3 separate regions of the Homo sapiens genome follow, and all the other regions are reported to be linked to region 2. The links are microRNA targets in miRTarBase. Many come from high-throughput screens and were not tested one by one. Region 2 holds a microRNA gene; each other region holds the end of a gene's coding sequence.

What was found. The annotated mature microRNA hsa-miR-4255 reads CAGUGUUCAGAGAUGGA and lies in region 2 at 2,168-2,184, shown strand. An mRNA with a match to its seed (bases 2 to 7 or 8) in the 3' UTR can be bound and repressed. Matches are read on the target gene's strand: a 7mer-m8 pairs with bases 2 to 8, a 7mer-A1 pairs with bases 2 to 7 and ends in A, and an 8mer does both.
Region 1: the mRNA of H3-5 is a reported target of hsa-miR-4255. The part of its 3' UTR that is shown has no 7-base or 8-base seed match.
Region 3: miRTarBase lists ASB1 as a target of hsa-miR-4255. The part of its 3' UTR that is shown has no 7-base or 8-base seed match.

The regions. Positions count from the first base shown.
Region 1 is chr12:31,788,172-31,792,408 of GRCh38, forward strand. H3-5 (H3.5 histone) reads right to left here and starts at 4,127. Exons shown (of 1, transcript NM_001013699.3): 1 at 3,014-4,127. The coding sequence starts at 3,995. The coding sequence ends at 3,588.
Region 2 is chr1:37,159,406-37,163,647 of GRCh38, forward strand. MIR4255 (microRNA 4255) reads left to right here and starts at 2,158; the gene lies at 2,158-2,229.
Region 3 is chr2:238,445,513-238,449,754 of GRCh38, forward strand. It overlaps ASB1 (ankyrin repeat and SOCS box containing 1), which reads left to right. Exons shown (of 5, transcript NM_001040445.3): 5 at 872-4,242. The coding sequence ends at 999. Among named protein-coding and RNA genes, the nearest start is that of ASB1, 21 kb to the left of the region's middle.

The DNA.
Region 1 (4,237 bases), not on the chromosome of region 2:
CCCAGCGCTTTTTTCTTTTTTTTTAAGATGGTGTCTCACTTTATTGCCCAGGCTGGAGTGTAGTGGCTCGATCTCTGCTCACTGCAGCCTCTGCCTCCCAGGTTCAAGTGATTCTCCTGCCTCAGCCTCCCCAGTAGCTAGGATTACAGGCGCCCACTACCAAGCCTGGCTAATTTTTGTATTTTTAGTAGAGATAAGGTTTCGCCATGTTGGCCAGGTTGGTCTCGAACTCCTGACCTCAAGTGATCCGCCTGCCTCAGCCTCCCAACATGCGTGAGCCACCGTGCCCGGCCAGCATTACATAAGCTTTCAAAACATGATTTTTACTATCCTATCCTAAAAGTTTTTTTTTTTTTTTTTTTTTTTTGAGACTGAGTCTCACTCTGTTGACCAGGCTGGAGTGCAGTGGTGCGATCTTGGCTCACTACAAGCTCCGCCTCATGAGTTCACACCATTCTACTGCCTTGGCCTCCCGAGTAGCTGGGACTACAGGCATCCGCCACCACGCCCAGCTGATTTTTTGTGTTTTTGGTAGAGACGGGGTTTCACCATGTTAGCCAGGATGGTCTCCATCTCCTGACCTCATGATCTGCCTGCCTCGGCCTCCCAAAGTGCCGGGATTACAGGCGTGAGCCACCACACCCGGTCAAAAGATTATTTTTTAATCTGAAATTATTTCCAAGGTAAATATTTTTCTTCCAGGTATTTTCCTAAGGACCCAAGTTCAAAACCTTGCATTACTCTGGTCTCCCTTTCTTTTTTTTTTTTTTTTGTCTTATGAGAAATCAAGTCTGAATTGATTTGGTTCAGAATCAAACCTGAATCTGATCACTAAATTCTACTAATTCTTTTCTTTCTATGTCTATCCACATAGTTCTGGCCCGGCCAGGCCCCTGTTTCCTCAGCCCAGATTATTGAAGTACTTTTCTGACTTTTTTATTTCTTTGTAGCCTCTTTTCTCTATGGTAATCTATTTTACATATCTCTTTGCATCATTACCTTGACAAAAATATTGACTGCCTCTACCTTATATGGCAGAGGTCCCAAACTTGAGCTCCAAGGCTGAACATAGTCTGCAAATTTGTTTTTCTACAACTCCACAGTGCTCTGACCATTATTTTTAAATTTGCTGGAATCCTTTCAAAGGGCCCCAGGTTTCACTGATTTGTGTTACCTGCCTGGCGTCTAGGCTTCCAGGTATGGCTGAGTAGACTTTGCTTTTTTTTTTTTTTTTTTTTCTGAGACAGAGTCTTGCTCTGTCTCCCAGGCTGGAGTGCAATGGCACGATCTCGGCTCACTGCAACCTCCACCTCCTGGGTTCAAACGATTCTCCTGCCTCAGCCTCCTGAGTAGCTGGGATGACAGGCGCATGCCACCACGCCCAGCTAATTTTTGTATTTTAGTAGAGATGGGGTTTCACCATGTTGGCCAGGCTGGTCTCGAACTCCTGACCTTGTGATCTGCCTGCCTCGGCCTCCCAAAGTGCTGGGATTGCAGGCGAGAGCCACCACGTCCAGCCGACTTTGCATTTTATAACTCCAGAGGGCACTGTGCACATAACATAAAAAGTTGTGCAGTGCACAGCCTATACAATCTGCACAACTCTACCTGGTGGCCCTATGGGAGCCTATGGCCATTTAGTGTGAACTCTAGTCTGTAAAACGAATATCATGCCCACTATATCGACTAATCAAGCCCATCCTGTACCATAGTCTGGAAAAGGCTGACATTCCTAAAAGCTTTGCACTCTAAGATAAGCCACGAAAACCAGAAATATTTCAAAAGCTTTGAATTCCAAGATAAGCCGTGAAGTTATTTTTTATGCAAAAGACAGAAACATACTGTTTTTCTTTTTATCAAGACTGACCCCAAAGTTATCCAATCAGAATTGTTGACTAATATATAACAATCTGAGCTATCTCCTGACTTTGTGATTTTTTTTTTTTTTAGACAGTCTTGCTCTTGACACCCAGGCTGGAGTGCAATGGTGCGATTTCGGCTCACTGCAACCTCCACTTCCTGGGTTCAGGCAATTCTCCTGCCTCAGCCTTGACAGTAGCTGGGATTACAGGCGCCCACCACCACATCCAGCTAATTTTTGTATTTTTAATAGAGACGGGATTTCACCATGTTATAGTTCAAATACTTTTTTAAAAATTAGATGTGCTAGTTCTGTACTAACTTGTCTTTTTTTGCAAGTTAAAATGCTAGTCAGTTCTCAAATTTGTCTGTGAATTTTGCAGGATAGAGTATAAAATTCCTTAAATCCTAATTCCAAGCTCTTTACAATGTGGGCCCTACATCCCTAAAGTTTTCTCCTTTGCGTAAATACTACACTTGAGACAAACTAATTGTTTTCCCCCAACATAAACTTTATAGTTCTCTTCTGTTGCATTTCTACTCTCCAATATTTCTGATTCTTTTCCTCTCTTTTTTTTTTTTTGGATAAACAAGTTTATTTGTAAATTTAGTCAACATACATAATTGACCTAAAAACTTCAATAAGATAAATTTTAAAACCACTTGGAAGGCCATCTCTATAAAAATGATTTTCCCAGGACAGTAACCAGATGTAACCTAACCTAACACCATCTTAACCGGCAGAGGTTCAGTGGGCTAGAGCTTTGTGCTCCTCCCCTACACCAAGTTTTTATAATACAAATGCCACAAGAAAAAGAACTTCAGTACTGTTTCCTCTTAGCAGAGGAGAAAACTCAACCTAGTTATGAGACCAACCACACAACACAATGAAAAGCTGCACTAGTTCAGAATATTAGTTAACAGATGATGCTGGTGTGAATAACTCATATTTTTTTCTAGAGCCCTTATAAATAAAATCCCCCAGTTAGTGTTTCCATTATCAGCTAGAGGGTTAGTTAACATGTGGTAGAATGAGGATTTATGCAAGGTATAAATGCACATAGCATTTTACTACTATGAGAACAAGTGCAGTCAGAAGAAAACCAACTGGACTCTAAATTACACACACCTTAATGACAAGACTCCCCACCACTTGTGAATGTAAAACATTTAATTTGAAAATGTTGACACTACAATATATAAAATAGCTATTATAAATGCACATATTGTATTCTATAGCTGCCAGGTTTAATTTTTTTTTTTTAAAGGAAACTATAAGTTACACTGTGGTTAAGGTTTGTATCTTCACCCTTGAAAAAGCCTACATTCTATCACAGTGATGTATGGTCAGACTTAACAGCCCCAATTGTTAAACACTTGGATCAAGTCATAACCAGTTTTATTGCAAAAGGACCCTGTTGTACACATTTATCAATTCTAGTACCTTAATAGCTACCCAACAAGTCATTAACATACAGAAACATGCATCATGAGAAGCAAGAAATATCACGCATCCGTTTTGCATATTAACAACTTGTCACTCCTGAGCAACAGTGCTGACATCACTGAGGTCTGTAAACAGTCACTTTTCGCATTCATCCTGAGTGAAAGATGGAATGACTTAAGTACAAATGCAACATATAAACAATTTCTTACAAAAAAAGTCACCAATTAAACCAAAGTATTTTACAGAATTTACTACAAAATGCCATAAAAACTGCCTTCACTTAAGCTCTCTCTCCCCGTATCCGGCGAGCCAACTGGATGTCTTTGGGCATGATGGTGACTCTCTTAGCGTGGATGGCACACAGGTTAGTATCTTCCAACAGACCCACCAGGTACGCTTCGCTAGCCTCCTGCAGCGCACCGACGGCTGCGCTCTGAAACCTCAGGTCAGTGTTGAAATCCTGCGCGATCTCCCTCACCAACCTCTGGAAGGGCAGCTTCCGGATGAGCAGCTCGGTCGACTTCTGATAACGACGAATCTCTCGAAGCGCCACGGTCCCAGGCCTGTAGCGATGAGGCTTCACCCCGCAGGTAGAGGGGGTGCTTTTCCTGGCAGCTTTCGTGGCCAGCTGTTTGCGGGGGGCTTTCCCACCGGTGGATTTACGAGCAGTCTGCTTGGTTCGGGCCATTTTCTTTCACCCAACGCCGAAGTTTTAGGCCACTTCTCCGACCTCCGCGCTGCTTCCGCTGCCCGAGGAAGAGCCGCAGTCGCGAGCGAAGAACCGACACTGGTCCAACGAACGACCAAACCGCTCTGCGCCCTCCTCTCTTTTATCTGCATCCCTTCCATTCTTCAAAGCCCATTTCGGTGTTTCGTTTTTTGTTGTTGTTTTGTTTTTTGAGACGGAGTCTCGCTTTGTTGCCCAGGCTG
Region 2 (4,242 bases):
GTAATTACCAGGGCAGCCATCCATCCTGGTGTCTTAGGAGAGTCTCAGGTTTTGTCTGTTGTTCCACATAATGATGAATAGCACCCTTTTTATTCTCAAACGTGTTTTGGTTTAGATCATCAATTATAGAGACACCTTAATAATTCTCAATAATAATTTTGGGGCTCATATGTCCTGTTTTCTCTCCTTTTCTTATTTTCTGCTCCTCCTACCCAAGCAGCACATACTGAATTTGCTAAAACCCTTCTATTGCAGAGCAAAAGGGAGGATATTCTCTGTGTTTTCAGGGAAAGCCCACAACAGACAATACATCAGAGGATTACATGTTCCTCCTAGAAGAAGAAGGACTTTTCCATGTGAGGTGAACAATCCAAATGAAAATTCAGGGAACAAATAAAAAGATGACTATAAGAACCTTCAGTTGGTCAGTTTACTTGGTGATATGGCTTGGCTCTGTGTCCCCACCCAAATCTCATCTTGAATTGCAACCCCCATAATCCCCACATATCAAGGGAGGGACCAGGTGGAGGTAATTGAATCATGAGGGTGATTTCCCCCATGCTAGTCTTTTGATAATAAGTGAGTCTCAAGAGATCTGATGGTTTTATAAGTGTATGGCATTTCCCCTGCTTGCACTTCTCCTTCCTGCCATCTTGTGAAGAAGGTGCCTTGCTTCCCTTTCACCTTCTGCCCTGATTGTAAATTTCCTGAGGCCTCCCCAGCCATGCTGAACTGTGAGTCAATTAAACCTCTCTCCTTTGTCAATTACCCGGTCTTGTGTATGTCTTTATTAGCAGTGTGAGAACAGACTAATACACTTGGAGGTCCAGGTTGGGGCCAGCTCATGGAGGGCCTTGAATGTCAAAAAAAAAAAAAAAAGACTTTGGACTTTGTCTCTGGGAAATAGTCATGTGGAAGGTCTCTGAATGGGGGAATAACCTGACCCAGTCCAGTTTACTTGAAAGAGCAAGAGTCAGACAGACCTGAGTTTAAATCACGATTCGTTGTGTGGAGTTAGGCATAGAGTGGAAAGTTGCTGAACCTCTTTGTGCTTCAAATTTATCATTTATAAAATGGAGAAACTAAAAGCTCCCTCTTGAGATTAATTGTAGAATAAATTAAAATTTAAAGCTCTTGGCACAGTATACAAATCCACAGTAGATATGTGACACGTGTTAGTTGTCTTAGCTGATGTCATGGCAGTATTTTGGGGAGCATCATAGAGCGAATGTATGCAGAGCAACAGGAAGAAGAGAGAGGCTGGAGGCAGGGAGGCCAGTGAAGAGGCAGCCAGGCAGGAGAGACCTGTGGATGAGCTACTAGGAACTGAGTGAGAGGACAGAGTCAGGCTAACTCTTCTTGCCTGGGTATTGTCAGGCCAGTGGTGACAACCTCAAAGTACAGCATGATGGCAGGCGGCTAGTTTAGAGAAATTTGTAAGAGAAAGATGAGACATTCATTGCAAGACATACAGGATTTAAAGGTTCAGACTGTCATCTAGGAGAGCTCTCCAGCAGAAAAGCTGAAGCTTAAAAATTGTCTGTCCAACCCCAGATCTTATAAGCTCAAAGAGAAAGTGTAATGAATAATAACAGGATGTGCATTGCTGCATGCTGGGACCAAGCCACAGAACCTGTCATTGGTGCAGGCAGGAAAGGCTAAATACACACCTGGATGGAAGAGACCTATTGGGGTCTTAAAGGGCAGAAAGGGACATTTTCGGCATTAAAGGAGGGTGACATGCTTGATTTGCAAGAAACAGAAAACCAATCAAGTTAGCTCACATAAAGAGGGCACATTATGAAAAAGATCTCACAGAACAAAAGCTCAGAAGTGCAGCTGAACCCGGACTTTCTCTGTTCATCCCCCAGGGCTGTGTAGACTCTTTTCTCTCTCTCTCACTGACATTCTTGCATGTTCTCCCTTTCTCCTGGTCAGCTTCTTCCATACGCTCACCCAATATCTGGTTTAGTCTAGTGCCCCTGCCCCTGATCTCACCTGGCTTTTCAACTTGAGAGCCTACCACCAACTAGGAGAGCAGTTTCTGTGTCTACTAGATTAAGTTCCCAGTAACTAGAAAAACTGGAATCTCCAGGAAAGCCTGTGGGAAAGGTGGGCCATGGAGCCATCTAATGTAAGAGGTCATTGAACTTTATAGAGCATCCTTCAGTGTTCAGAGATGGAGTCAGTATTGGTCTGGCCATTTTTAGGGCAAAGAGGCAGCATCATGCTGGAAGCAGTAGTCTGCAATGCTAGGATGTGACTCCCAAGCCCTTGGTCATACCCTCTACATTGTATATACAGCAAGCTTCAAGGTGCAGAGATAAGGACTTGGGAGCATGTTGAGGGATCTGTCATGAGGCTGGAGCACTGAATGCTTGGGTGTTGGGAGAACAAAAGATGAGCCTGGAGGGATCAGCAGGAGTCTCATCCTGCAGGAGGTGGAAATTCATCCTGATAGCAATGGGGAAGCCATGAAGTCTTTTCAAATAACATTTTTATTGAGCTGTAGTCTGCACACCATAAAATGTACCCTTTTAAAGTGTAACATTCAGTGATTCTTCAGTATGCCACAGAGTTGTGTAACCTATCTAATTTTAGAACATTTCATCATCACTTCCAAAAGAAATCCCATACTAATTAGCAGTCATTCCTCATTCCCCCTTGCTTGACAGTCCCTGGCAACCACTAACCCACTTTCTTTCTCAGTGGATTTGCCTATGCATGACATTTCATATACATGCAGTCATACAATGTGTGATCTTTTGTGACTGGCTTCTTTCCCTTAGCATAATGTTTTCAAGGTTCATCCATGTTGTAGTGTGTACTTCACTCCTTTTTATGGTTGTGTAATATTCCATTGTATTGATATACCACATTTTATTTATCCATTAATCAGTTGATGGTCATTTGTGTTGTTTCCACTTTTTGACTGTCATGAATAATGCTGCCATGAACACTTATGTACAAGCATTTGGGTGAAGATATGTCTTCATTTCTCTTGGATATATATCTAGGAGTGGAAATGTTCTATTATATTATAGAGTTAACTCTATGTTTAACTTTTTGAGGAACTACCAAATTGTTCAAAAGTGGCTGTACCATTTTACAATTTGATTAGCAATGTATCAGGGTTACAATTTCTGCATGTACTTGTCAATCTTTGTTATTATGTGTCTTTTTTATTTTAGCTATTCCAATGCATGTAAAGTGGTATCTCGTAGTGGTTTTAATTTGCATTTCCCTTATGACTGATTATATTAAGCATCTTTTCATGTGGTTATTGGACAATTGTATATCTTCTTTGGAGAAATTTCTGTTCAAATTATTTGCCCATTTTAAAAACTGAGTTACTTTCCTTTTTATTATTGAGTTGTAAGAGTTCTTTATATATCCTGAAAACAATACCCTTATCAGATATATAATTTGCATATATTTTCTCCCATTTTTGGATTTGTCTTTTCACTTTCTTGATGGTGTCGTTTGAAGCATGAAAGTTTTAATTTTGATGAAGTCCAGTTTGTCTATTTTTTGTTTGTTTTGTCACTTGTGCTTTTAGCGCCAAATCTAAGAATCCATTGTCCAATCCAAGGTTATAAAGATTTTCTCCTGCATTTTCTTCTACAAGTGTTATAGTTTTAGCTCCTATGTTTAGATCTTTGATCCATTTTTAGCTGATTTTTGTATATGATGTGAGGTAGGGTTCTACTTCTTTCTTTTTGGCAAGTGGCTATACAGTGTCCAGCATCATTTGTTGAAGACTATTCTTTCCTTCATTGAATTGTCTTGGCAACCTTGTTAATAATCAGTTGGCCATAGATGTATGGGTTTAATCTATCAACTCAATTCCATTCTATTGATATACATGTCTATCCTTATGCCAGCCCTGTACTGTCTTGATTACCGGGTTTTTTTTTTTTTTTTTGTAGTAAGTTTTGATATCAAGCAGTAAGAGTACTCATACTTTGTTATTGCCTTTCAAGATTATTTTGGTCATTCTGGGTCCCTTTACATTTCATATGAACTTTAGAATTAGCTTGTGAATTTCTACAAAGAAGTCAGCTTGTATTCTAACAGGGATTGCATTTAATCTGTGGATCAATCTGGGGAGTATTTCCAGCTTAACAAAGCTTCTGACCATGAATATGAAATGTCTTTCCATTTATCTAGGTCTTCTTTAACTTTTTCAACAATATTTTTCAACTGTATTGTTGGTTATACAAGTCTTGCACTCCTGTTAAA
Region 3 (4,242 bases), not on the chromosome of region 2:
GATTTTGTTAACGATTAATGCATCAATAGCACCAGAGATTGGAATTGATCCATAGCTTGGTCTTGTTATCCGAGGCTCTCTGGGATTCAGACATTGACCTCATGTGTTGTCTTTAACCTCCTGCCCACATGTCACCCCCTCCCACCGCTCCCAGTCTGGGTCTTGAGACATCCAAGTTGATAACCTCTTCCTTCTCCCTGCCTCTCAAAGGACTTTAAATTCATTGTGTTTTTGTTACTGGATTTCCCTAAACCAGTTCATTAAAGCATGCTCCTGTGTAGCCTTCCCACAAATAGTTAATGAATGGTCAGCTGGGAGCTGTACTGATAGAAGCAGCAGCTTGCGTTCAGGACTGTTCCACTCCTCAGCTTCCTCGCTAATCGAGACAGAACTTGGCTGCGCTCTTTTCATTGGGGGCAAAGTCGTCAGCCTGTGCCCCTCAAGCAGTGCTCAGCCTGTGTTCCCCAGGCACTGGTGGAGCTTCAGGGATTGACTAAGGGAAGGGGCTGACAGAGGCTGGGCGTCCGCGGCCCGCACCTGCTGGGGCCTTCAGTGGTCCACTCTGATTTCTTTCTCTAGTGCATTAAACATGGTCGAGTTGTGATCCAGGGAGCAGATGCCCTGGGTTAACGAGGCTGGAAAGGTTTCGCTCTTTCCTGCGACAGAAGGAGCAGATAAGAAGACCTTCCTCCCTGGGGCCTGCTCTCCTCATCCATCAGGAAAAGCCATCACTTTGTGTTTCACTGAGCGTTTTGAAGTTGGTAGTGAGCATTGGTGCACTTCTGGCTGGCAGTCCCAGCTGCCTTTTCTCTCTATAACTGGAATAGAATGAACCTTCCTCTATCCCTCTCTTTCTTCCCACGGCCTTCAGGTGTTCCCAGAACCTTGCTGTGTCTGTGCCGTGTGGCTGTGAGAAGAGCTCTTGGCAAACACCGGCTTCATCTGATTCCTTCGCTGCCTCTGCCAGACCCCATAAAGAAGTTTCTACTCCATGAGTAGACTCCAAGTGCTGCGGTTGATTCCAGTGAGGGAGAAAGTGATCTGCAGGGAGGTGGACACCGAGCCCTGAGTGCTGTGCTGCTGCTGGTCTCCTGATGGCTGTTGCTGCAGAAGATGTCCTCGTAGACTGTCATTGCTCCTCAGGTGCCTGGGCCGCTGAACAGTCCTTGGGTCATTGTCAGCTGAGAGGCTTATACTAAAGTTATTATTGTTTTTCCCAAGTTCTCTGTTCTGGATTTTCAGTTGCATATTAATGTAACGGGCCATGGGGTATGTACATGTAGGGGCTGAGGTTGGAGGCCTACTAATTTCCCTGTAGGGAAGACTCCCAGCACTTCTGGAACTGTGCTTCTCTTTATTTTTCTACTTCTCAATTTGATGGTTCGATTAAAGCCTTCTAGTATCTCAATGAAAAGGGAGTTTCGTAAGCAAAATAGAGGACAGAAATGCAGTTCATGAACTTGCTGGTTGGTTTTTCCTGCTCCTGGGGTAACACATGCGCTTGTCATACACGCCCCTTCCTTGCCCCTTCAGTATTCTCTCTTTGCGATGGAGGTCTCATAGTGAGTGTCTTCACTCAAGGGTGGTTTCCTGGCTGCACGGCACCTGTTCCAACACCTACTGTGCCTCTCATCAGGTGTCACGATTTTTCTGCCACTTCACCTTAGGGAGCTTCCAGTGATTGATTTTAGGAGGCCCACACCAAACTCCCCAGGAAATGACTGCCTTCCTTGGGACCAAGGACCGTTCCAACAGCATTCACTGCCAGTTCTAATAGGCGAGGAAAATGCCCGAGGCGCTGTCTTCTGTCCCCCACACGTACCAGAAAGTGAAAAATGCAGCGAGTCCTCTGGGTGGTTATGAGCCTCCAGGCGCATGCTGTCCAGTGGACAGAACATCTGGCGGTTGGTTGATTGCTCTCTTTTGTCTTGGTCGCTGCTTCTAGAATCTATGCAGGGGATAGCAGTGAGGTCAGAAGTCTTTCCCGGGAGAGAGATGGCCTGGGTTATCATTGCTGATAGCTTTGGCTGCATGAGTTGGGCTTCCCCTTACCCAGGGCTGCACAGCCAGGTGTGAGGGTCACCGGCAGGTGGGCTGGTGGCTGCAGCCTCAGAGCCCTCCCAGGTTGCTGCTGTTTCCAGTGAATCACATTTCGTCATTTGAAGCCCATGAGGACCATTGTGTGGATCCATGGTGATTCTAGACTTCAGATATATTTAGGAAGGCGCAGATTTCAAATCTGTGTTTGATTTTCTGTAATAAGAGAAATCCAATTTGTAAAACTTGAACAATGATACCGTTTTATTTACTTAGTAGCATCACTGTGTGTCTTAGCAGGCAGGCAGTGTCTGGCCATTATTGCGTTCTACAGCCAGAGGATAGAATTCTATACCCCCAACCCCTTGTGTCACAAATGGGCTCTGTGTGGGTCACCCCAGCTGACCCGTGTATGTGCAGATGCAGTTCCGAAGGGAAGAACAGTCCTCGGGTGATTCAGAGGGGAAAATGCAATCCGGGAGGTGTTTCCTCAGCTGAGGTGACACTGTTAGAAGCTGTGATGGTTGTGTAAATGTGGGCTGTGTGCTGTTCCCGAGGGGAGCTTGGGATTGGGTCCTGCTGAAGCCAGGAGGGTCTTCCCAAGATAGGAGAGGAACCGCAGGTGGTGAGCGGCTGGGGAGGGCCAGGACAGCCGGGGCTGGGTGCTGCAGGGGCTTCAGCCCGGGAGAGGGGGTGGGCGTGTTCTTTGTGGTACCAAAGTGGGACTAGGACAAAAATTGGGCTGTGGCTGGGGCAGGAGCTATAGGGAGTTAAGGAATGATGATACGGAAGTTGGAGCCACCACCGTGGACTGGGCCTTGTCACTGGAGGTCGTAGGCAGTGGCTCATCACCCTGGTAGGGCTGATAGGGGCTTTCAGGGAGGCTGGTTAGCTCCCTGCACTCTGGCTCTTTACTGGCTTACTGTTTAGCTCCTCCCACCTCGAGGCTCTTCTTCCTGCCACCCTTTGGGCTCAGAGGAGGGTGGCTTTTTTCGAGGTGAGCCATGTTGTAGACACATGATACGCTCTGCGTCTGCTCTACTGAGTACTTTCTGCAGGGGCCTGTTAAGGACGAGGCCTCCCCAGCCCTGCCCGGTGCAGGAGGTGGCTCAGTTATTGAACCTTTTGGGAAGCAGCACCTGGGAATGCTGCCTCGTGGGAGTCCCATGCGTGAGTGTGGTGGTGTGACCTTCAGGCTGCACAGAGGCAAGGACCCAGATGTGGCAGCATGGGCGTCATGCTCCTTTGCACAGCCCAGGGCCTGTTTTGGAGGGACCAGGTCACTGCCCCTGGTCTCTCTAGGAGGAGTGGACTGAATGGATCGTTGCAGAGAAGACTCACCCAGACCTGGCCAGGGAATGATGTATCTGGGGAGAGAATGAGCTGGAGGAGGGGGCCTCTCATGGCCCTTCCCTGGCCTGTGGCCCAGCCTGGCTGGCCTGCAGGTGTCTAGGGTCTCAGCTTTTCATTTGCAGAGGACATGTTCAACTTCCTCTCTGTTCAAGCCAGCCTTTGCCAATTTTTTCAGAATCCAAACAATTTGGAGGTTTGGTATCTTGTTTCATAGCTGCCAAATATGAATCTGAAAACAGGGTGGGTAGCTAAGGTCATTCCTCCTGGGTTTTAGTGGCATTGCCTTCCTTCACTAAAGCTCCCTTTTTTTTCTGTTGGCAAGGACAGGTTACAGAATAGGAAGAGTAGCACTTTCCGCCTAAGCACTTTAGGAAATCACCTTTCTAAGCCCTGGGGCGCCCAAGTCCCATGGGACAGGGAAACGTGGTCCTCAGTGAGGCTGCTGCCTGGCTGGCCCGGAGTCCTCCCTAGGAGAGGGGCTCGATGGGCTGGGGGAAGGAGCCTGAAGGTTGCCCCTGGTTGCATCCCAGAAGCATCTGACTGTCACCACTGCCAGTGGCTGTGGAACAGTCCTGGGCCCTGGGCCTTGGCTGCTGTCAACAGATGGGCTGGGCTGGGCTGTGGTGGGGTGGGGGACAACGTTGGTAACTCTGAGAATTCAGCTTTGGAGTCCCGGGTGAGGGGTTTTAGATAAACCCATCAATATCACCCACATTCTGTGACTCTTTGCATCACTCGTGTTATTTATTTATTTATTTATATTCTGCCTTGTTCCAGAAAAGTGTTTAAGGCAACAATGCTTGTTTTTTGGTGTTTTCTTTTGACATTTGAAAATTTAGTACATTGTTAAAA